Linked DNA regions of Homo sapiens. The protein of the gene in region 1 purifies or fractionates together with the protein of each later gene. This does not show direct contact. Each region holds a gene or a part of one and is shown in the gene's direction. Other genes may lie near its edges. The genes, in order: FOXRED2, CLGN, OS9 and MIPEP.

Region 1 (7,182 bases):
TCCCTAGGGGAACAGGGTGGCTGTTCAGTAGGCTGGCGACAGAGCTCTCAGGACAGCACCCAAAGAATGGATGTGAGTGCTGCCTGATTTCCCTCCAGGACATGAGCTCTGACCATTGAGGGTCCCAGGTGGCCCTGAGGCCCTTGGTCCTGGAGCAACACCAGCAGATCTTCATCAGCATTGGGAGCCTCCACCTGTGAGTTGGAAAGGCCGGCTCAGAGAGAATACAGAGGGGAATTTGCTCGAAGGCAATATAGCGTAGTGGCTGAGAGCACAGGTGCCGGAATTGTCCTGAGATTCTCTGCTTGCCAAATCTGTGACCTCGGCGGAAGTTATTTAACCACGCTGTGGCCCAGTATTCTCATGTCTAAAATGGGATTCAAAGTTTGTTTCTCATATGGTTATTGCGAGGATTAACATAAGAATATGCTTGGAGGCTGGGTGCGGTGGCTCACACCTGTAATCCCAGCACTTAGGGAGGCCGAGACAGGTGGATCACTTGAGGTTAGGAGTTCGAGACCAGCCTGGCCAACATGGTGAAACCCCATCTCTACTAAAAATACAAAAATTTAACCAAGCGTGGTGGTGGGTGCCTGTAATCCCAGCTACTCAGGAGGCTGAGGTGGGAGAATTGCTGGAACCTGGGAAGCAGAAGTTGCAGTGAGCCGAGATCACACCACTGCACTCCAGCCTGGGTGACGAGACTCTTATCTCAAAAAAAAAAAAAAAGAAAGAAGAATGTGTGCAGAGGCCAGGTGCAGTGGCTCATGGTCTCACACCTATAATCCCAGCACTTTGGGAGGCCAAGGCAGGCATACTACTTCAGCTCAGGAGTTCAAGACTAGCCTGGACAACATGGTGAAACCCCACCTCTACAAAAAATACAAAAATTAGCCAGGTGTGTTGGCACATGCCTGTGGTCCCAGCTACTCAGGAGGCCAAGGTGGGAGGACTACTTGAGCCCAGGAGGTCGAGGCTGTGGTGAACTAAGATCATGCCTCTGCATTCCAGCCTGGGCAACAGAGTGAGACCCTGTCTCAAAAAAAAAAAGAGATGGCTGGTCACAGTAGCTCATGCTGTAATCCCAGCACTTTGGGAGGCTGAGGTGGGCGGATCACAAGGTTAGGAGTTCAAGACCAGCCTGACCAATGTAGCGAAACCCCGTCTCTACCAAAAATACAAAAAATTAGCCAGGCATGGTGGCACGTGCCGGTAATCCCAGCTACTCGGGAGGCTGAGGCAAGAGAATCGCCTGAACCTGGGAGGTGGAGGTTGCAGTGAGCCGAGATCGCGCCATTGTGGACTCCAGCCCAGGCGACAGTGCAAGATCTCCATCTCAAAAACAAAAAAAGAGAGAGGAGAGAAGGAAGGAGAGAGAGGGGAGAAAGAAAGGAAAGAAAGTGCTGGGAGCTAGGTGCAGTGATGAGTACCTAGCTACTCAGGAGGCTGAGGCAGGAGGATCACTGGAGCCCAGGAGGTCAAGGCTACAGTGTGCTATGATCATGCCTGTGAATAGCTGCTGCACTCCAACCTGGGCAACATAATGAGACCCTATCTCTTAAAATAAAGAAAGTACTTGGCATGTATTATGTGCTCAATAAAATGTTAGTTGCTTAAGTTATTTATCATTGTATTTTGAAGGGCTATTTTATGAAGCCTAGATTTTAAACATTGCTGCCGACTACCTCGGGAGGTTTGGTATCAAAGCAGCATCCAGTCTTTCACTTGTCTTCTGACCAGGGTGCAGAAAGACAAAGGAGAAGCTGGTGTGCCTGTCCAGACCCTCCTTTCCATCGGCCTCCCAAAGTGCTAGGATTACAGGCGTGAGCCACTGTGCCTGGCCTGACTTCATTGTTTGTTTGTTTGTTTGTTTGTTTGAGACAGAGTCTTACTCTGTTGCCCAGGCTGGAGTGCAATGGCATAATCTCGGCTCACTGCAACCTCTGCCTCCTAGGTTCAAGCGATTCTCCTGCCTCAGTCTCCTGAGTAGCTGAGATTACAGCCATTGCACCACCACCCCCAGCTAACTCTTTTTGTATTTTTTCATAGCGACAGGGTTTCACTGTGTTGGCCAGGCTGGTCTCGAACTCCTGACCTTGTGACTCGCCCGCCTCGGCCTACCAAAGTGCTGGGATTACAGGCGTGAGCCACCTCGCCTGGCCGACTTCATCTCTTAAATGGAGATGATAATACCCACCTCCTGGGGTCATGGTGAGGTTTAAATGAGACGAGAAATCTAAGGCACTCAGTGCCAGTAATAAGTGCCACTGTAATAAGTGCCTCCTGGCTGGGTGCAGTGGCTCGCGCTTGTAATCCCAGCACTTTGGGAGGCCAAGGCAGACAGATCACCTAAGGTCAGGACATCGAGACCAGGCTGGCTAACGTGGTGAAACCTGGTCTCTACTAAAAATACAAAAATTAGCTGGGCATGGTGGCAGGAGCCTATAATCCCAGCTACTCGGGAGGCTCAGGCAGGATAATAGTTTGAACCCAGGAGGCAGAGGTTGCAGTGAGCCGAGATCACGCCATTGTACTCTAACCTGGGCGACAAGAGCGAAACTCCATCTCAAAACTAACTAAATAAATAAGTGCCTCTTACATAGCAGCTATTTTCATGAACAGCCCTTTCCACTGACAGGTCCCTCAGACTTAACTCGGGAAATGCATTCGGCAAGAAGTACCCGCTGATTCGAGCTAGCTACGAATCCAAAGGAAGCCGGGGTCTGTTTATCCTGGGTACTGCCAGCCACTCGGTGGACTACCGGAAATCTGCTGGGGGCTTCATCCACGGATTCCGATACACAGGTGAGCCCAGCTGAGAAGGCAGAACTGTCCCCAGACGGAACCACTCTCAGCATCCCAGGGTTTATAAATCTACTCCTATGTCCAGAAGCATTAGGGGATTGCTTGTCAGTAGCTCATTGTCATAAATTGTCTTGGGGAAGTGACAACAGGTTTTTGTGGTCTGACGACATGTTTAGGAAAGTATCAGATAAAGTGTAAAAGTCCACGCCTGTAGTCCTAGCTACTTGGGAGGCTGAGGCAGGAGGATCCCTTGAGTCCAGGAAGTCAAGGTTGCAGTGAGCCATGATGATACCACTGCACTCCAGCCTGGGTGACAGAGCGAGACTTGGTCTCAAAAATAAAATAAAATTAAGTGTAGGCCAGGTGCAATGGCTCACGCCTGTAATCCTAGCACTTTGGGAGGCCAAGGCAGGTGGATTGCTTCAGGCCAGGAGTTCAAGACCAGCCTGGGCAACACGGCGAAACCCTGTCTCTACTAAAAATACAAAAATTAGCCAGGTGTGGTGGCGTGCGCCTGCAGTCCCAGCTACTCGGGAGGCTGAGGCAGGAGAATCACTTGAACCCAGGAGGTGGAGGTTGCGGTGAGCTGAGATCGCACCATTGCACTCCAGCCTGGGCAACAAGAGCAAAACTCCATCTCAAAAAAAAAAAAAAAAATGTAATTGGATTATATCAGTTCTTTTTCAAAACTCTCAGTACCAAGGGTATAAATTTTCTGCCAACTTGAGAATGTTTACAAAGAAAATACTAAAATATCTTTTAAAAACATAATTCTATTTATTGCACTAAAATAATCCCCAACCAAAAATTGATACTTGTGATTTTAGGAGTAAATGGGAAATAAAAAGGAAGTGAGAGAGATGAATTCACGCATGTTGGGTGACTTCAGTGGGCTGAGCACTGAACACACGACCCTGGCAGGGCCGCCAGCACCCCGAAAGGTGGGTGTGAAATCTCCATTTTCCTCAAGAGTGTAAAACTCTGAGGCTCAGAGTTTTGGTGATTTTCTCACCATTATGGGAATTAAACTCCAAGGCCCAGGAGCTTTCCTGAAAGACACTTTCTACAAAGGTCTTCTCTTCTTTCATAGAAAGCAAACTGGTGCCCTTTCTGTGGAGAGGAGTCTAAAATGTTAGATGTGGCCAGGCACGGTGGGTCACACCTGTCATCCCAGCACTTTGGTAGACTGAGGTGGGTGGATCACCTGAGGGCAGGAGTTCGAGACCAGCCTGGCCAGTATGGTGAAATCCCACCTCTACTTAAAATACAAAATTAGCCGGGCATGGTGGCGGGCGCCTGTAATCCCAACTACTCGGGATGCTGAGGCAAGAGAATCACTTGAACCTTGGAGGTGGAGGTTGCAGTGAGCCAAGCCCACACCATTGCACTCCAGCCTGGGCAAAAAGAGTGAAACTCTGTCTCAAAAATAAATAAATAAATAAAAATTAGATGTTCCTGCTCCTGTGGTTAACCTTCTGAGAAGGACAGGGTGTTGGTTGAAATTCACTCAGTGAGGCATACAGTATTCAGTTAGGTGGTTAGGTGAGTCTATTTGAAAGAATGGAGTCATAATCTTACAGCTGAGCTTTAAAAAATTAGTATTATTATTTTTTTTGAGACAGCGTCTCTTCCTGTTTCCCATGCTGGAGTACAATGGCGCCATCTCGGCTCACTGCAGCCTCGACTTCCCAGACTCAAGCCATCCTCCCACCTCAGCCTTCTGAGTGGCTGGGACTTCAGGCGTGCACCACCACACCCAGCTAATTTTGTTGTTTTTATTTTTGTGTGGTAGAGACAAGTTTTCGCCATGTTGCCCAGGCTGGTCTCAAACTCCCAAGCTCAAGCGATCCACCCACCTCAGCCTCCCAAAGTGTTGGGATTACAGGCATGAGCCACCATGCCTAGCCTGAGCATCAAAAATGTGAAAATGTAGGGAATTACGGGGAGTAATCTTTATATTCTGCCACTCAAAGACATTCAATATTTATATTTCTTTTTTCTTTTTAAAGACAGTAAGGCAGGCTGGGCGTAGTGGCTCATGCCTATAATCCCAGCATTTTGGGAGGCTGAGGCTGGCAGATCAGCTTAGGTCAGAAGTTCGAGACCAGCCTGACCAACATGGTGAAACCCCATCTCTACTAAAAATACAAAAATTAGCCAGGCTTGTAATCCCTACTACTTGGGAGGCTGAGGCAGGAGAATCACTTCAATCCAGGAAGCAGAGGTTGCAGTGAGCCAAGATCGTGCCACTGCGCTCCAGCCTGGGCATCAGAGTGAGACTCTGTCTCAAAAATCATAATACAAATGAAGACGGTAAGGTGGACTTTATTCCAGGTTAGAGGACTACAATAATAAGTGTAGGGACCACTGCAGAGGGGTCTTACAGTACGGGCAAAGGATTGGACTCAATTCTGGGAGTCGGTTCCTCCTGGAACCCAGGAGGCGGAGGTCGCGGTGAGCCGAGATCGCACCACTGCACTCCAGCCTGGGCAACAGAGCGAGACCCTGTCTCAAAAAAATAAAATAAAAAATATTTAAAAAAAGAACTTAGAGACAGATGGATTTAGGCTGTGAAAGAGAGGGCGAAATCAAAGATTTCTGTAGGCGCGTCTCTGATGGAAACAGAGCTGTGAAGGGGGGGAGGTTTCTGGGGAAGGCTCCGTGTTGGACTTGACGTTCCTTGTGTGAGGTGGGGCCGGTGGGACTCCCACGTGCAGATGGCCTGAAGCAGGGGCAGATGGACTCTGGCCTGGAGACCAACTCCAGCTGTGCTCACTCCTTTGCCTGTTGTCTTGGCCGCTTTTACACTAGGGGCAGAATTGAGCAGCATCACTGAGTCGTGTATGACCCACAAAGCAGAGAATATGGATTGTCTGGCCCTTTCCAGAAAATACCTGCTGGCCCTGCTCTAAAGGCAGCTGCCATCTCCTCCCCTCATGTGTTCACCACCTAGGCGTTTGCGCTGGGCCATGGAGACCAGTGTGTATGGCGTTCTCAGGGGTCAATGAGGCCTGGGCATCCCTCCCAGTGACCAGAGATAAAATGGTAAGTGCAGCGTGCCGTTCCTCCCTCTGGCTGTTCCAGTGCGTGCTGTTCACCGGCTCCTGGAGCACCGCCACCACAGCGTCACCTGGCCCGCCACTGAGCTCCCCATCACACAGCTGACCAGCTCCATCGTGCGGCGCGTGAATGAGGCTTCTGGGCTCTACCAGATGTTCGGTGTGCTGGCCGATGTCATCCTGTTGAAGGAGTGAGTAGCCCGTCCCCACCCTACTCCCCTCGGCCCAGCTTTCCCGACGTGCTGCATAGCGCTTCTCTTCCTATTCCAGGTGTGAGGTGCCCAGTTCTTTCCTAAGATGAAGGCTGCTGTGGGGAACATGCCTGTTCTGGGGAAAAACAATGACATTAACTCTACAGACAGTCCTGTGAGTGGCCACGGGCACATTAGTGAGCCTCTCTGAGCCCTTCTTCCTCATCTGCAAAATGGGGATAATTGTGCCTACCTTGCAGCAGTAAAGGAAGGAGTAAAGGTCACTTGTGGAAAGTGTTTGGCATCACGTGGATGAGCAGTAGTCAGAGGCAGCCACGTGGATCTCAGAGCTCCCTCAGGCCAGGGCCTTGCCGGCCACCATCGTCAGAGTCAATTTAGTGATAAGCAGCAGATCCCAGAGGATGGACAGTTCCTGAGAAGGAAACGGTGCAGAGCACAGAGGGGTGAGGGGCGGGGGGAGACAGGTGGCAGGGAGAAGCAAGGGAGCAACCTTCAGTCAGAGGGAACAGCCCGATCCAAAGGCAGGGCGTGCTATAGCACACCAAGTTCAGGGACATGCAGGTAGTGCAGCCGCTTTCTGCACAAAACCCTCGCATCACCCTCCATGCCCCTGCCCCTCTTTTTTTTTTCTTGAGACAGTCTCGCTCTGTCATCCAGGCTGGAGTGCAGTGGTGCGATCTCTGCTCGCTGCAACATCTGCCTCCTGGGTTCAAGCACTTCTCCTGCCTCAGCCTCCTAAGTAGCTGGGATTACAGGCACCCACCACCATGCCTGGCTAATTTTTTTTTTTGACTCAGAGTCTCACTATGTCTTGCCCAGGCTGGAGTGCAGTGGTGCGATCTTGGCTCACTGCAGCCCACCTCCCAGGTTCAAGCGATTCTCGTGTCTCAGCCTCCCGAGTAGCTGGGATTACAGGCCCATGCCACCACACCTGGCTAATTTTGTATTTTTAGTAGAGACTAGGTTTCACCATGTTGGCTAGGCTGGTCTCAAACTCCTGACCTCAGGTGATCCACCCGCCTTGGTCTCCCAAAGTGCTGAGATTACAGGCGTGAGTCAGCACGCCTGGCACCCCTGTCTCAACACCCCACATGCAAACCATGGGC
Region 2 (7,182 bases), on another chromosome or scaffold:
AAAACTCTAAAAGTTTGCAGTATAAGAAATGGACAAGGTGATTGAATCTAGGCATAATGGAACAATGAAACTGTGTTCACATTTATGCAGCCACTGTACAAAATTGTTTTTTCCAATTCTTACCTTTTTACAGAATGCTCTGTCCTGAGATAATCTATTATAAAGCAAAATCTTTTTAATTTTTTTTCTAAAAACAGTGACCTTTAAGTCATATCATGCACCACGTGTTCTACTTATAGTCTTCAAATACTTAAATTCCATGAAAAACAAAATTTTGTCAGCTATTGCTTAAAATAAAGATAAGACTTTGAGGAAAACAAACTGTCCTCTATTTAAAAAATGAAAAAGAACGAAAGAATACCTTCCTTCTGATTATCATAGAAGCATTTTGAGCATGTATTTGCCCCTCATTGGGCATGATATCCTTTAATCATCATAACAATCCTTTGAGGTGTAAGTATGGGCCATGTCTGCATATTATAGATGAGCAAATAGAGACTTAGAGCTTAAATGACTTGCCGTTACCCAAGGAGTCACTAGAGTAAGTGGCAGAATCAAGAATAACTCTCAGGTCATTTTGACTTTAAAGTACATGCTTGTGGCCACTGTTGTAGATAGCTTAAGAAATAAAGCATGGTAAAAAGTATAGGAGAAAATCACCCCTTTCAAATCAGAGATACTTAAAATTTTGTTTCCTTTTTTTTAATACAAAATATGTACACCAATTGAGTTCAAACTGTTAAAATTTTGTATACTATCATGTTTTACCTTCTTGTCACTAAATTTCTTCAGAAACATTTACAACTATAGTCCTTTATTAAAATGATCATTATTTCTGGTTATTTCTCTAGTTTTCATGTCTTTTTGATTTAATTCATTTAATGAAATCATAACCTTTTTTGTTTTTACTGTTTGACAGCCATTTCCTTGTTGATTTTTGTCACATATAATTCGTTAATTTAACAACAAAAAATCTCGTAAGTCTATGCCTCATTGCCATAGCAAGGCTATTTCCTTTTAAAGTTACCAATAAAGAAAAAAAAACTTTGCTGAGAATTACACTGTGTTGTAAATTCATAAGAGACTCTCATGTTCATTCTTTTAGCTGTTATACTAAACAGTGAAAATTTCCCATATCTCCTGGCTGTTTAGGTCTGAAATCCAGCTTATTGACTGAGATTATGAATCTCTTTGCTGGAGCTATTTAATTAAATGTACAACTTATTTAACATGGTAAGGTGTAATGAACTCTAGGTATCTAAGATCATTAGCAATTTCGTAGAAATCTTGCTGTAGCTGTGGTTCTTACGGCCTTTATTTTTTTTTAGTTTATAAAGTGTAAGTATAGTGCTTACCTTATCAGAATTTGAAATTTCCTGTTGTAGTTTTAGTTACAGTATCTTATGCTTAATTTATCAGTTTTGATGGAAAAAAATTTAAACAAATTGATTGGTTTGTCTGCAGTTGATTGTAATCATTCTATTTTTAATATTTTAATGATGTGTCTTGTTTTAGAGTAGTAGAAAAGCGTTTCTGCTTATTTCCTATAGGTTGTAGATATGCTTTATATGAGTTTTCTGATAATGTAAAAAAATTTATACTTACATGAATTGAGAATAATAAGATTATATTTTAAAGAGCAACTAGTAAATTTTATTTATCAGTAGTACGGTTCTTTTTCCCTTTATTCAGATATGAAGTAAATTTTCAAGATGGTATTGATTGTGGAGGTGCATACATTAAACTCCTAGCAGACACTGATGATTTGATTCTGGTATGATATTTTAATATTTAAGAAAACCTTATTAAAGTTAATAAGTATTTTTAAGGAACAAATGATAAAACTGAATATTTTGTCTTCAACTGAAATTGAAAAGAATTGTAGATATCTTTTTTCAATGTGAATTTACATAGCTCTTACAATTCGCCTTCAAGTTTTATATAAAGCTGTGTTACTTGAAGGCATCAATTTTATAATCTTTAACAACATGAAAAAGTTTACCATGTCTGTAGGACAAAAACTACGTGATACTTATAAATTTCTTTTGAAATATAGCTTAGAGTTATTTTCTTTACAGAATAAGACTCTTAAGTTTGTTTAGAGAAGCATAACAAAGCATAGCAGTGAAACAAAATGGCCGAAGAACCAAATTAAAAGGGGTTAGCAACCCACAGAAAGTAACTAATTTTAAAAACTTTTCATGATGAAATAGGTTTATACTTCTAAGAGGTTGTATTAGGACCATTGGAAAGTTGGGGATATTTCTTATAGCCTTCTCCTGTAAAAGGCTGTTTCAGACTTTCTGCATATAACAGAAATACGATAGATGAGACATCAGGGGTATATTTTTCAGAACACTTAGCTGTACATAAGCTATGAAATGTAGATGGGAGACTTTTTCATGTACTACTCATTATTATTAGGATCAAGTGAAGGAGAGGCCATTGGAGTATATGTTGAAGCTCTTGTTTTAGATGAACACTTGAAGGTAGGATGACAAAAAAATCTAATGCCAAGTATTTCTATAAGCACTTTATCTGATTAATTCACTTAATCCTTAGAGAACTCTTATAAGGTAGGTACTATTATCATCTCCATACTTCAGAGGTGATGAAATGGAGGTGCAGAGAGCTTTAAAAAATTTGAGTCAGGGTGACACCCAACTAGTTTAAGAGGCAGTGGTAGGATTTGAACCCCAGTATCTGACTCCATGCCCCATGCTGTTAACCACTATGCCATGCCAAATAAAGAGAAATTCATGTCCTCGTGTCTGTTTTTATGTCTGAATGAATCTCTCTTCATCTTGTGCTCAGAGGGTCATTTTCTGGTATCTTCCTAAGTAATAGTAATGGGTGATAATTTTAGTCTTAAGGCCATAAATATGCTTTCCTCTAATGCCTAATTCTCTCAATAAAAATATTAGTAATATAGATTTACATAGAGAGTTAAAGCATATTATGGTGTTGCTAGAGTATTTTCAGCTTCTGTCCCACATCGTCAGGAAGTAGTGTGTACTTAAAAAAATCTATATTGAAGTAAAATTTGTCATTTTCCCATGTCCTTTATTGTCACTTGTATTAAATAGCTAGCTCTCTGGTGAATTACCATTTAATATATTTTTGTAAACTCTACCCATTGGATAAAATACAGAAATGCATTAAATAGTCTGTGATTCTGGACTAATGCCAACACTCATCTCTCTTTGAAGGAAAACTTTTATGATAAAACATCCTATATCATTATGTTTGGACCAGATAAATGTGGAGAAGATTATAAACTTCATTTTATCTTCAGACATAAACATCCCAAAACTGGAGTTTTCGAAGAGAAACATGCCAAACCTCCAGATGTAGACCTTAAAAAGTTCTTTACAGACAGGAAGACTCATCTTTATACCCTTGGTATACCCTTTTAATTCATTCATGTATTCAAAAATATTTGCTGACTATTGATGTATTCATGGCAAGTGCTTTACAAGAAAACAAATGTGTACCCCATCCTGAAGGAGCTTATCTTTTTCAGAAAATAGGACATGTATAATGACAGCACGGGTAGAAAATAAAGTACCATATAAGAAAGAGAGATGAGGCACAGCTAAGAGTTCACAAGCAATATTACTTCCAGCTTAGAGACTTGGAACAAAGCTAGGAAAGATTATATTTGAACTCGTCTTGAAGTACAGATAGAATGTTGAAGACAGTAGGGTGAAAGGACATTTTAGACGTTGTGACAGTGGTGCTGTAAGAACAGAAAACTAGAAAATAAAAAGGAAGAGGCCAGAACAGAAAACTAAAAAATAAAAAGGAAGAGGCCCTTAATGCCAGACTAAAAAGTTTAGACTTTATTCTGTAGGCAGTTGTGATTATTGTTATGTCCTACCTTGTGTTGGTTGTGGCATGTACTTCGAAAGGAGAAGCATTGAGCAGCCATATATTAATATACTTAAGTAAATAGGAATTTGCATAGATATGGGGGTGAGGGACATCATAAGCAGTTGTTTCTCCCATTCTCAAGTATAATGGCTGTAGAGCTCTGGTCAGCCCACTATCAAAATCAGAGCATATTGGAACCTAATAGGACATTTTGAAATGGCCCTATTGGCTTCCTTTCTCACGTCTCAACTCCACCCAAGATTAAAGTATTTCAATCTTTTTCCCCAAATGCTGCAGTGGTAGAAACATTCATTTTGTCTGCTCGGGCAATGCCCATTTCATCTTCAATATCAGATGTGATATAATAAATATCTTTATGAAATAATTGAAAAAACTAGGCATTTGGGGGAACACCAAGTAAACTGTAGAAATAATGAGAAAATATTACTAGAACAGAATAAATTAATTTTTTGTTATACTTACAACACTTTAAGATGGTATCAAAAAAATTAAATGCTGAAAAAGATTAGCTTGTATTTTGTAACTATAAAAGAGTGAAGCTGACTCGTTATGAGTCCCAAAACAGAGCTATTTGGTATTATTTTTTATTTGAGAAGTAATGGAGCATTTTATTGTAAAAAATGCAGTTTAAAACAAAATTTTATCTTTAGGAAATGTATCTAGTGATTTTAGAATGTTTTAGTTCAATACATTGGTTATTCCTCTATTTCTGGTTGGGAAAAAAGCTTTACCCATGGAGTTAAGGGTAGTTACATTATTTAGAAGATTATCTTTAAAGCGTATATCAAAATGATAACTATAATTTATTTAAATTGGTCCCTTAGTGATGAATCCAGATGACACATTTGAGGTGTTAGTTGATCAAACAGTTGTAAACAAAGGAAGCCTCCTAGAGGATGTGGTTCCTCCTATCAAACCTCCCAAAGAAATTGAAGATCCCAATGATAAAAAACCTGAGGAATGGGATGAAAGAGCAAAAATTCCTGATCCTTCTGCCGTCAAACCAGAAGACTGGTAAGCAAATAATTCGGTAGCAAAGCATTATCTGGCATAACTAGGTAATGAAACAACATATAAGTGAAGTTTACAACCCATGAAGTTTATTTTTTTAAACATCAGAACTACTTATTTTTAGTATTTTGGGTGAAATATTTTCTAAAATGGATTTTACACTTCCCTCCCTGTAATTTTTTTTTATTTCTATTGATAATTATGTTGCATTTTTTAATATATATTTATTTTTTATGTTTTCAATGCTGTGGATTAAAAATTTCATAAATCCAAAATACCAGTGCTTTAATTTTCATTCCTAGTTTGATCTTTATTGTATGTGTGTGAGAGTCCGAGGTGGGCAGATCACCTGAGGTCAGGAGTTCGAAACCAGCTTGGCCAACATGGCGAAACCCCGTCTCTACTAAAAACACAAAAATTAGCGGGCATGGCGGCGGGTGCCTGTAATCCCAGCTACTCGGGAGGCTGAGGCAGGAGAATTGCTTGAACCCAGGAGGCAGAGGCTGCAGTGAGCCCAAGGTCGTGCCACTGCACTCCAGCCTGGTGACAGAGCAAGATTCTGTCTCAAAAAAAAAAAAAAAAAAAAAAAAGAGTATGTTTGCCCTTAAATGAGAGAAACCACATATAACTGCTTCATTCTGATTGTTGAAATGTGTTAGAATTTGTTTTACAAAGTACTAAAAGAAATGCTCCATTAAATTTTAACTTTTGGTTACTCTGAGCACTCAGAAACTCAAGATGACATTGGTATCAGGCAAGCACAAATCTATACATTTGTAAAGTTGATTATTTCTGTTTATTTTGTAACTCATTTGGAAAATCATGAAGTGTCCTCTTGTTTAAAATTTCTATCTTTCTGTAATGATGAAAATTGTATTAGTAGTTCAGTACTTTATGTTTATATACTTCAGAATTTACTAAGTGTTTTGTTTTTGTTTTTGTTTTTGTTTGAGATGGAATCTCGCTCTGTCACCCAGGTTAGAATGCAATGGCGTGATCTCAGTTCACTGCAGCCTCTGCCTCCTGGGTTCAAGGGATTCTCCTGCCTCAGCCTCATGAGTAGGTGGGATTACAGGCAAGCGCCACCACGCCCGGCTAATTTTTGTATTTTTAGTAGAGATGGGATTTCACCATGTTGGTCAGGCTGGTCTCGAACTCCCGATCTCGTGATCCTCCCGCCTCAGCCTCCCAAAGTGCTGAGACTACAGGCTTGAGCCACCACGCCAGCCTAAGTGTTCTTTTTAAAATAAGAATGCTAGAATTAAATAAGGAGAGTTTTAAAAATTATATTGGAATAGGGAAGAACTTTCCAAATATGACATAAAATCCAAGAATCCTTTAAAAATAAGTTCAACTACATGAAAATAAATGATTTGTATATTGCAAAAAAAAAAACCTCCCTAAACTATTTCAAAAAACACACAAGAACCAGGAAAAATTATTTTCAATCATATAGCTGACAGAGAGCTAATTTCTTAGTATAAAGGTAATGAGCTAAGAAAAAATAGTTTTTGTGTATCACTTATGCTACTAAATGTACATTCAAAGTTCAGTGAGATACCATTTTTCACCTACCACATGGGCAGAAATCAAGAAGTTTGGTAACACTCTTCGCAAGGACAGGAGAAAATAGGTACTTTTGCATGCTGCTGGTAGAACCGGAAGTGGAGTGTAACCATTATAGAGAGTAATTTGGATGCTACTATCAAAATTTAAAATGTCCATACTCTTAACAATTATATTTTCACAGATGAGAAATGGCATATATTCTAGGACATTCACTATGGCATTGTTTGTATTAATAATAGTAAAATTTTGGAAACACTAAATGTCCTCCAAGAGGAGATAAGCTAAATAAATTATGGTGTATCCTCAAGTAGAAAACTATGCAACTGTTAAGAATGAAGCTATGTGTATATATATATATGTGTATATATATATATATACATATATATATATATACATATATATATATATATGTATATATATATGCTCCAGCCAGGCATGGTGGCTCATGCCTGTAATCCCAGCACTTTGGGGGGCTGAGGTGGGTGGATCACCTGACGTTAGGAGTTCAAGACCAACCTGGCCAACATAGTGAAACCCCATCTCTACTAAAAATACAAAAACTTAGCCAGGCGTGGTGGCAGGTGCCTGTAATCCCAGCTACTCTGGAGGCTGAGGCAGGAGAATTGCTTGAACCCGGAAGGCAGAGGTTGCAGTGAGCTGAGGTCGCACTATTGCACTCCAGCCTGGGAAACAAGAACAAGACTCCAC
Region 3 (7,182 bases), on another chromosome or scaffold:
CCGCCATCCCTGCTCCAGCCCCACAGGTTAACCCTGGTCTTAGTTTTGCATGTATCCTTCCAGCCTTTTTGTGTGATTACAAACAATTATGAATGGAGATTCTTATTTCCTTTCCCCTTTATTTATAAACAATATATAGTAAATTAAACACACTGTTCTATACCTTGCTTTTATTTCCCTGGACAATAAACCTTAGAGAGATCTTTCAATGGCAGTATATCTTTTTTTTTTTTTTTTTTTTTTTTTTGAGACGGAGTCTTGCTCTGTTACCCAGGCTGGAGTGCAGTGGCGCGATCTCTGCTCACTGCAACCTCCACCTCCCGGGTTCAAGGGATTCACCTGCCTCAGCCTCCCGAGTAGCTGGGACTACAGGTGTGCGCCACCACACCCAGCTAATTTTTGTATTGTTAGTAGAGATGGAGTTTCACCATGTTGACCAGGATGGCCTTGATCTCTTGACCTCGTGATCTGCCCTCCTTGGCCTCCCAAAGTGCTGGGATTATAGGCATGAGCCACCATGCCTGGCCCTTTTTTGTTTTTATAGCTGCATAAAATTCCATTGTGTGTTCCATCATTTTGTCACCATTATTCTACTGGTTGAAATAGTTCCACCCCCAATTCTTTTGTTGTCACAAATGATTATTACATTGTACATATATGCATGTGTAAATATATCTTACATATAATTGGGCTGGGCACAGTGGCTAATGCCAATATTCCCAACACTTTGGGAGGCTGAGGAGAGAGGATCACTTGAGCCCAGGAGTTTGAGACCAGCCTGGGCAACAGAGCAAGACCCTGCATCTATTAAAAAAGAAGAAAAAGAAAGTAAGCAAAAAAAGCATAATTGCCAGGTGCAAGTTATGGATATTTAAAGATTGTCTTTTTTAAACTTTTTATTACAGAAACTTAAAAACATATATAAACTCCCTACAAAGGTGTATCTGTGGTTCCCTGTCTTTGGACACATAGGATGGTATTCCTGTTCTCTATTTCATTTATTTTTGTCCTAGTCTGTAGTCTTTCCCTCTGCTGGCTCTTGGTTTAGTGTGTTCTTCTTTTTCTAGTTTCTTAAGATAGAAGGGTAGATTATGGAGTCAAGATTTTGTTTTTAAAAAATTGATGTTTATAGCTATGAATTTCCCTCTAAGCACTACTTCAGCTGCATCCTGTAAGTTTGGATATGTTATGTCTTCATTTTCGTTCATTTTTGAGGTATTTTATAGTTTTCTTTTGATTTTTTTCCTTTAACTCACTGGTTACTTAATGAGTATATTGTTTAATTTCTACATATTTCTGAATTTCCAAATTTTTTTCCTCATTCATTTCTAATTTTATTCCATTATGGTCAGAGAACACACTTTGTGTGACTTAAATTCTTAATTCTTTGAATATATTTATTAATATAATGGCTACTTTTAACTCTTTGTGAGATCCAACATCTGGGCCCTCTCACAGGTGGTTTCTGTTGCCTGCATATTTTCCTATATATGTTTCATACTTTACTGTTTCTGCATGTTTCATAATTGTTGAAAATCAGACATTTTAGATAGTATGTTGTAGTAACTCCAGATAGAAATTCCTGCCCTCCACCCCATGGCTTTTGTTTGTTCATTTGTTCAGTGACTTGGCTGCACTACTTGCATTCAGTCTCCCCCTCACAACATGAAGCCTCTAGTGTCTCTTCTCAGAGTGCACGGTCTTGGCCCTGCACACAGCCACACTAGATGACAGTGGTTTCAGCAGGCTTTTTGACTGTTTCTTTCATGAATTTGTTAAGCCATCTGCCTCTGCTGGTATCACCCCCAGCTGTTAGGCTCCATTCATTGCCAACTAATTGCTTTATTGTTTTTGACATGTGGGGCATAAGTTGTTCCATAGTTTAGTCCAGTTAATTGTGGGCCCCTTTGTCGGGCTAGTTTTTGAGGGCAATATATAGGTTTGTTCTGAGTCCAGGACGGCTCTCAGTTGCCCTTTCCCTGGTTCTCTCTGTTAAACTAGCTGTCCCAAGGTTTAGCCTGTTGCTATCATGGAGCAATCAGCCTCCTTTTAATTGCCTCCTGCCAAAATCTCTACATTTTTGAAGTGCCTATAGGCTTGAATTTCCCCATACTCTGTTTCATATTAAGTCAGGTCCTTTGGAGAATGTTTTGGAGCCCTGTATTCTTACGGACTGCCTCTCCCCCTGGGCAAAATCCCCGAGGCCCTGCTCTGGAGTTGGGGTCAGGAATAATGGCTTGCTTCACTTGGAAGGACATTCCTGCTTTATGAGCAGGGAGCTAGGCAGGGATGACAACCTCTGCTCTCTCGGTTTGCATCTCCTTTTGTGAAACCTCCACTCTCTGAGCAAGCTTCCGTGAGGGCAATCAGGGCCCCGATACTTTTGTCCCACTGCACTTGAGGTAAAGCCTCTGCCCTGTGGGTGGGGCTGAGTGGAGGAAGGGAGCCCTTGATCTTTTTCAGGAATTTAGTTGCTGTATCTTGGAGCTGGTGGCCCTCCTGGTAAAATACCATATATCATATCTCATGACTGGATGTTGAGAGAATAGGAAGTCCCTCCCCCTCCACCGCCCCACCCCACTTTTTTTTTTTTTTTTTTTAACTACGCTTACCTGCTGGAGTGGAGCTTTAGTCTAACTGAGCTGTGGGGTAGGGGTTTGGGGCATAGATTGAGGGAGCATGTCATGGTTCAAGTGCTGCAAATTCTCACTATTCAAGATTTAGTAGCTGGGCATGGTGGCTCACACCTGTAATACCAGCACTTTGGGTGGGAGGATTGCTTGAGCCCTGGAAAGCCTGGACAACATAGCGGGACCCTGTCTCTACAAAAAAATTTGTAAAAATTAGTTGGATATGGTGGCACACACCTGTAGTCCTACCTTGGGAGGTTGAAGTGGGAAGATTGCTTGGACCTAGGAGGTTGAGGCTTCAGTGAGCTGTGATCATGCCACTGCACTCCAGCCTGGGTGACACAGTGAGACCCTGTCTGAAAAAAAAAAAAAGATTTAGTAGATTTTCTTGAGTAAACATTTCTTCATTTGTTATATGTCCTTAGGAAAATTTCCAAAGAGTTTAAATGCTTTATGTTTGTTTGTTTGTTTGTATTGAGACAGAGTTTCACTCTTGTTGCCCAGGCTGGAGTGCAATGGTGCGATCTCGGCTCACCGCAACCTTGGCCTCCCAGGTTCAAGCAATTCTCCTGCCTCAGCCTCCCGAGTAGCTGGGATTACAGGCATGTGCCACAAGGCTGGCTAATTTTGTATTTTTAGTAGAGATGGGGTTTCTCCATGTTGGTCAGGCTTGTCTCGAATTCCTGACCTCAGGTGATCCACCTGCCTCGGCCTCCCAAAGTGCTGGGATTACAGGTGTGAGCCACCGCGCCCAGCCATGCTTTGTGTTTTTAAATTTTCATCAGTAATGGAGTTTCCCTGTGGAGTGTGCGAAATCCCTCATGCTGCCATTTCAGAAGTAGGACCGCTCCCACTTTTTGTTTTTGAGACAAGGTCTTGCTTTCCACACGGGTTGGAATGCAGTGTGGCATGATCATAGCTCACTGTAACTTTGAACTCCTGGGCTTAAGGGATCTTCCTGCCTCAGTCTCCCAAGTTGCTAAGACTACAGGTGCACACCACCACACCTCGCTAATTTTTAAAAATTTTTTGTGGAGATGAGTCTCACTATGTTGCCAAGGCTGGTCTTGAATTTTTGGCATCAAGCCATCCTCCTGCCTTGGCCTCCCAAAGTGTTGGGATTACAGGTGTGAACCACCAGCCTCTCTTACTTTTAATAGTTATTTTAGAAATTAGAATATTGCATGCTTAATTTATCAAAGGCCAATCAATCTCTTTACCCTCTTTCTGAATGATATAAGAATCTTAGAATTGTTTGAAGTTTTTTACCATATGCACATATATAAAAATTACATATTTATATACAAATATATATACACTTTAAAAAAAATACAGGCCAGGCCTTGTGGCTCATGCCTGTAACCCCAGCACTTTGGGAGGCCAAGGTGGGTGGATCACCTGAGGTCAGGAGTTCAAGACCAGCTGGGCTAACATGGTGAAACCCTGTCTCTACAAAAATACAAAAATTAGCCAGGCATGATGGCAGGTGCCTGTAATCCCAGCTCCTCGGGAGGCTGAGGCCGGAGAATCGCTTGAACCCAGGAGGCGGAGGTTGCAGTGAGCTGAGATCATGCCATTGCACTCCAGCCTGGATGACAGAGTGAGACTCCATCTCAAAAATAATAATAATAATAATAATACATATATGAAGCAAATAAAAGTATATATATACACACACACAATATTTATACAAAACAAGAATATGAAACATAAATTGGTTACCTACAGTTAAGCTGCCTGAATTCAGTTCCTGTTTTTACCACTTAAAGGCTGGTCAACCTGAACAAGTGCCTTAACTGCACCACACCTGTTTCTTGAGGCACGAAGTTGAGAAACCAATATCGCCTCACTGGGTCTTTGTGATAAGTGAGCCAATTTATGTAAAGTGCCATATGCACAGTGTATGCACAATGCTTGACAGATAATCAGTGCTTAGTAAAAGACACCTGCTCTAATAACTAAAGCAAATTATTGTTGGTGATTAAGTGTATTCATCCTTTCTGTCCTGGCAGTTCCTCTGTGACGAGGGTGCAGGTATCTCTGGGGACTACATCGATCGCGTGGACGAGCCCTTGTCCTGCTCTTATGTGCTGACCATTCGCACTCCTCGGCTCTGCCCCCACCCTCTCCTCCGGCCCCCACCCAGTGCTGCACCGCAGGCCATCCTCTGTCACCCTTCCCTACAGCCTGAGGAGTACATGGCCTACGTTCAGAGGCAAGCCGGTGAGTAATTAGAGAAGGAGGAGAAGACGGGGAGATACGGGGGCAGGGGGTGGCAAAAGATCAAGTATTGAATAGCTGGAGGAATGTGTTCCTGGCCTGCTTGCATGCTGTTTCTCAGTAGACTCAAAGCAGTATGGAGATAAAATCATAGAGGAGCTGCAAGATCTAGGCCCCCAAGTGTGGAGTGAGACCAAGTCTGGGGTGGCACCCCAAAAGATGGCAGGTAGGACCTTGTTTCACCTGTTCCGTGAAACTCACTTCCATTTCTTCCCTTCCCCTGATCTTACTGTCCTGACTGACTGGTGGGGTGGGGGGGGGTGGAAAAGTACCATGGGCCCTCCTCCCTTGGTGATAGAGGAGGGGAAGGGACCCCATCCTATTTGCTCCCTTCTGTCTCACCCCTCCTGTCAGATCAGTCTCTCCCTGTTCTCTGTACCCTAGGTGCGAGCCCGACCAAGGATGACAGTAAGGACTCAGATTTCTGGAAGATGCTTAATGAGCCAGAGGACCAGGCCCCAGGAGGGGAGGAGGTGCCGGCTGAGGTGAGACCAGCTGCCTCAGAGGAGCAGGATGGGGATGGGGAGGGTCACTGCAGCTGGGGCCATTGTGAGGTGACCTACATCTACCTAGGGATGCAAGGATATCCCCAGAACCTTTGCCTTCATAGTATGGAGGGCATGAACAGGCTTTCATACTTGACTCTCTCCTTTTCTCCTCGTCAGGAGCAGGACCCAAGCCCTGAGGCAGCAGATTCAGCTTCTGGTGCTCCCAATGGTGAGTGAACCTTCCATGTCTCCTTTACTGAATATATTTTAGGATTGGCAGGGGTAGGGATGGAGGGGAGAGCTAAGCCTGGGAGGGAGGTTGGGTAGCCAGGCCGGCAGAAAATTCATTTTTATAGGAGTTAATACTCTTTGTAGACAGCACTGCTATTTTAGCAAGGTGGCAGAACACAGTGGCTCCACCACTTGGTGACTTTGTAATTCACTTAACCTCAATTTTCTTACCCATAAAATGAGGGTAATAACCCCTACCTTAGAGGGTTGCATGGGATTAAATGAGAATGCATCCATAATTCACAGTAGAAGGCCTGGAACTGAATAAACTAAATGGTTAATATTTGTGGAAAGAGGAGAAGGGTTCCAGGGAAGACAAGCCCTTAGCCCCAGGATCTCCTCTGTAGTCCTAAAAGCTAGAGTGACTGCCAGAAGGGCCTCAGAAGTGCATGGAAGAGTGGGGACTTAGCAGCTTGTTAGCATCCATCTCTCCTACCAGAGTGTCCACCTTAGGATGGTGCTCTCTGCAGGCGAATATTTGCCCTTGTCTCACTGTCAAACAGGTAAATCCTAGAGGCAGGGACCATGTCCTTCCTTGGTCTCTCATTACCTGTCCTTAGGAATCCAGAGAGAATTTAGGAGCGCAGTAGCGCACACCTGTAATCCTAGTTACTTGGAAGGCTGATGCAGGAAGATTGCTTGAGCCCAGGAGTTCAAGATCATCTTGGGCAACATAGTAACACACCATGTTGAAAAAGAAAAAGAGCCGGGCGTGGTGGCTCATGCCTGTAATCCCAGCACTTTGGGAGGCTGAGGCAGGTGGATCACCTGAGGTCAAGAGTTCAAGACAAACCTGGCCAACATGGTGAAACCCCATCTCTACTAAAAATACAAAAATTAGCTGGGTGTGGTGGCAGGCGCCTGTAATCCCAGCTACTTGGGAGGCTGAGGCAGGAGAATCTCTTGAACCCGGGAGGCAGAGGTTGCAGTGAGCAGAGATTGCACCACTGTGCTCCAGCTTGGGTGACAGTGCAAGACTCTGTCTCAAAAAAAAAAAAAAAAAAAAAAAAAAAGAATTTAAACACAACAGAACAGGTTCATGATTATTATTCTTTCATCTCAGATTTTCAGAACAACGTGCAGGTCAAAGTCATTCGAAGCCCTGCGGATTTGATTCGATTCATAGAGGAGCTGAAAGGTGGAACAAAAAAGGTATAGGCCGTGCTTAGGGAATGGGTAGAACCCACCTCCCAACTGCGAGCATTTGAAAAACTACCCTGACCTGGGACTCAACTCCTGGGTCCCCCAGTACCACACACCTGCTACTGTTTGTCTGCCCCCGACCATGTGTCTCTGTTGAAACCCCAACTGTCTTTCTCCCCACTCCCTACCCACCCAGGGGAAGCCAAATATAGGCCAAGAGCAGCCTGTGGATGATGCTGCAGAAGTCCCTCAGAGGGAACCAGAGAAGGAAAGGGGTGATCCAGAACGGCAGAGAGAGATGGAAGAAGAGGAGGATGAGGATGAGGATGAGGATGAAGATGAGGATGAAC
Region 4 (2,894 bases), on another chromosome or scaffold:
GTTGTTTCTTTGTTGACATATGCTTTCATTTCTCTTGGATAAATACCTGGGAGTGAAATTGCTGGGTCCTAGTGTAGGTCTATGTTTAGTTTCGTAAGACACTGGTTAAGACCTTTTTTCAAAGTGATTGTATCATTTTATCCTTTCACCACAAATGTATGACAATTCAGGTTGCACACAGCCTTGTCAACATTTGGTGTAGCACAGTGGCTCACGCCTGTAATCCCAGCACTTTGAGAGGCCAAGGCAGGAGGATCGCTTGAGCCCAGAAGTTCAAGACCAGCCTGGGCAACATGACAAGACCCCATCTCTACAAGAAGTTTAAAAACTAGCTGGGCATGGTGGCACACACCTGTGGTTCCAGCTACTCTCAAGCTGAGACGGGAGGATCACTTCAGCCTGGGAAGTCGAGGCTGCAGTGAGCCATGTTCACACCACTGCACATGCTGTGTTGTCCAGGCCTGGACAACAGAGCAAGACCTTGTCTTTAAAAAAAAAAAAAAAAAAAAAAAAAATTAGCTATTCTGGTGGATGTGTAATAGTATCTCATTGTGGGTTTGGTTTTCATTTCCCTAGTGACTAATGATGTTGAATGTCTTCTCAGTGCCTATTAGTTGTGTTACTTATTCAGATATCTTCTGTGAAAAACCTGACCTTGTGAAGGTAAAATCTTTTGTCAATTTGTAATTTAAAAAAACATATTTTTACAATGGGTCAAAGGAGTTCTTTATATTTTCTGGATACCAGTCTTACGTGAGATATGTTTTGTGAGTATTTTTTCCAACTATCATTTGTCTACTCATTGGCTTAATGGTTTCTTTTCAAGAGACATTTTAAATTTTGATGAAATCTAACATTTTTTCCTTTTATGCATTGCTTTCTGTGTCCTAAGAAACTATACCTACTTCAGGGTCACAAAGATACTTCATGCGGTTTTTTTAAGATAATAATTTTAGTGTTTACACTTAGGTCTGTGACCATCTCAAATTAGTTTTTATGTATGGTATGCAGTAGGAGTCAAGGCTAGTTTTCTGCCGTATGGATATGCAGTTCTGCCCAGCCGACTACTCTCACTCTTCATGTTGTGACTGAGCCTGCCCACCTGTATGCCCATGACCTGGCCTGATCCTTTACACACAACAGATGCTTCCTTCATGTTCACTGAATTGCAATACAGGTTCAGAGAACAATAGAGGATTCCTGCAATCTTTTAATGCCTTGATTTTGAAAATGGTTTTACAGAATTCATCTCCCAAAGTAAATATCAGTATATAGAGCCTGTTCAACCCTTCAGTTAGCATTTCCTGCCAAGAATGTAGGTTAAAGCAATAAGGTTAATTGCATCAATCTTTGTTTTTGGCTTCTTTAGAGTGAAGAAAGGACATGAATTCAGCTTTTTATTGAATTCTTAATATATGCTAGGCATGGTGCTTCATTGCTTCTACTACATCTTCTTGTTTGATCCTTATAGCAACCTTGTAGGAAATTTGGATGCCAGAGATTTTAAGTGACTTCTGCGTTACACAGTTACTAAGTTGCAAAGCTAGGAGTTCTCTGGGACAGGGAAATCTGGAGGAGAGCCAATAACTTGATTCTGATATAAGATTTCTATAAAAGAATTAACATCTAATTGATTGTAAAGTGTATAGAACTTGATAACAAAACTTGATATGTAATTAAACTTGTTAAATTGTGAATCATCCCAGTCAAAGATAACTAAAAAAAAATCAGTCTTCTAATATCAGTCTCTAAGGGTATAGTCATATATGCAAAAATAATAGCCCTTAGGAAATATATTTAGGCCTAAATCTCTAAGCTAAGGATGGATTTGATAGTAAAAATACATTAAAATTATAAATAGCTCCAAGGCCCACACACTGCCCATGACTTTATAAAATGTTCTTGCATTCAGGTTATACAGCCAGAGTCTTAATTCAGAAAGCCAGAGTGTTCCTCTAGTGTGTGGATTTGATTTTGTGTCTTTGTGCTTCCTGTTGCCTCCTGGTGAACGCAGTTCTGACCTTTCCTTTGTTTGCAGGTATGCTTCAGAAGTGTCCTTCTGTTGATGACTTCGTAAGTGCCCTCGTTTCCGACTTGGATCTGGACTTCGAAACTTTCCTCATGGATTCTGAATAAAAGAAACACTCTACACCTCTTAAATCAAGGTCATGTAGATAATGACTTTGTTATAAATGCTACAGCTGTGAGAGCTTGTTTCTGATTTCATTGTTCGCTTCTGTAATTCTGAAAAACTTTAAACTGGTAGAACTTGGAATAAATAATTTGTTTTAATTATTCTGGCTTTTCACCTGTTTGGCAAATATTTGAGCACATGGAAATCTCTGACCTAGTAACAACAACACTTCTACATGGCATTGTTAAATGGAGGGTATGGGCATTTCCTTAGTATAACCACTCTCCTGTTGAGCTTTTCCCTCTTTCCATGGATCTTTAATTGGTTTAATTAAATAATTAACTAAAAGCAAAATTGTTTAAGACAGAGTTTGAAGCAGTCTTCAGACAGGTTACACTTATAGTTCTTTTAAGAATGATGACCATTTCTTAAGACCACTATCTAAAGTAGGCTTAGAAAATGCACTTTAAATAGTCAATTACAGGCAACCAACAAACCAAGTGTGGTTTCCAAAATACATGTAATTATCTGTACTGTTTTTTCCTGAATGTTTAGGCAAATAGACTCAGAACACAGAGGACTGGCTTGGCAATGAAGGTAGAATGAGTAAGTGCAGGTACAATTAATAAGTGACATACCAGTGTCAAGCAACTGGTGAATCAGGAAACAGACCATGTCTGTTTTTATCTGGAACTCATTTGCTTTACAGTATTGCATACCATACTGTATTTTGGTTAATATCAGGAAATAAATTATTTAA

Evidence for each region.
Region 2: the proteins of FOXRED2 (region 1) and CLGN purify together in Homo sapiens (co-immunoprecipitation; 2 studies listed by BioGRID and IntAct, with this or other methods). This does not show direct contact.
Region 3: the proteins of FOXRED2 (region 1) and OS9 purify together in Homo sapiens (affinity purification with western blotting; 2 studies listed by BioGRID and IntAct, with this or other methods). This does not show direct contact.
Region 4: the proteins of FOXRED2 (region 1) and MIPEP purify together in Homo sapiens (affinity purification with mass spectrometry; 2 studies listed by BioGRID and IntAct, with this or other methods). This does not show direct contact.

The regions. Positions count from the first base shown.
Region 1 is NC_000022.11:36,496,864-36,504,045, reverse strand, and holds part of FOXRED2 (FAD-dependent oxidoreductase domain-containing protein 2 isoform 1 precursor), read left to right. Parts: intron 1-2,638; coding exon 2,639-2,805; intron 2,806-5,889; coding exon 5,890-6,055; exon of another isoform or gene 6,056-6,191; intron 6,192-6,308; exon of another isoform or gene 6,309-6,488; intron 6,489-7,182.
Region 2 is NC_000004.12:140,396,577-140,403,758, reverse strand, and holds part of CLGN (calmegin precursor), read left to right. Parts: intron 1-1,692; coding exon 1,693-1,774; intron 1,775-3,209; coding exon 3,210-3,402; intron 3,403-4,718; coding exon 4,719-4,908; intron 4,909-7,182. UniProt on the Homo sapiens protein: Functions during spermatogenesis as a chaperone for a range of client proteins that are important for sperm adhesion onto the egg zona pellucida and for subsequent penetration of the zona pellucida.
Region 3 is NC_000012.12:57,711,118-57,718,299, forward strand, and holds part of OS9 (protein OS-9 isoform 1 precursor), read left to right. Parts: intron 1-4,642; coding exon 4,643-4,853; intron 4,854-4,971; coding exon of another isoform or gene 4,972-4,974; coding exon 4,975-5,076; intron 5,077-5,294; coding exon 5,295-5,395; intron 5,396-5,575; coding exon 5,576-5,627; intron 5,628-6,752; coding exon 6,753-6,841; intron 6,842-7,028; coding exon 7,029-7,182. UniProt on the Homo sapiens protein: Lectin component of the HRD1 complex, which functions in endoplasmic reticulum (ER) quality control and ER-associated degradation (ERAD).
Region 4 is NC_000013.11:23,729,590-23,732,483, reverse strand, and holds the end of MIPEP (mitochondrial intermediate peptidase), read left to right. Parts: intron 1-2,038; coding exon 2,039-2,136; 3' UTR 2,137-2,295; downstream 2,296-2,894. UniProt on the Homo sapiens protein: Cleaves proteins, imported into the mitochondrion, to their mature size.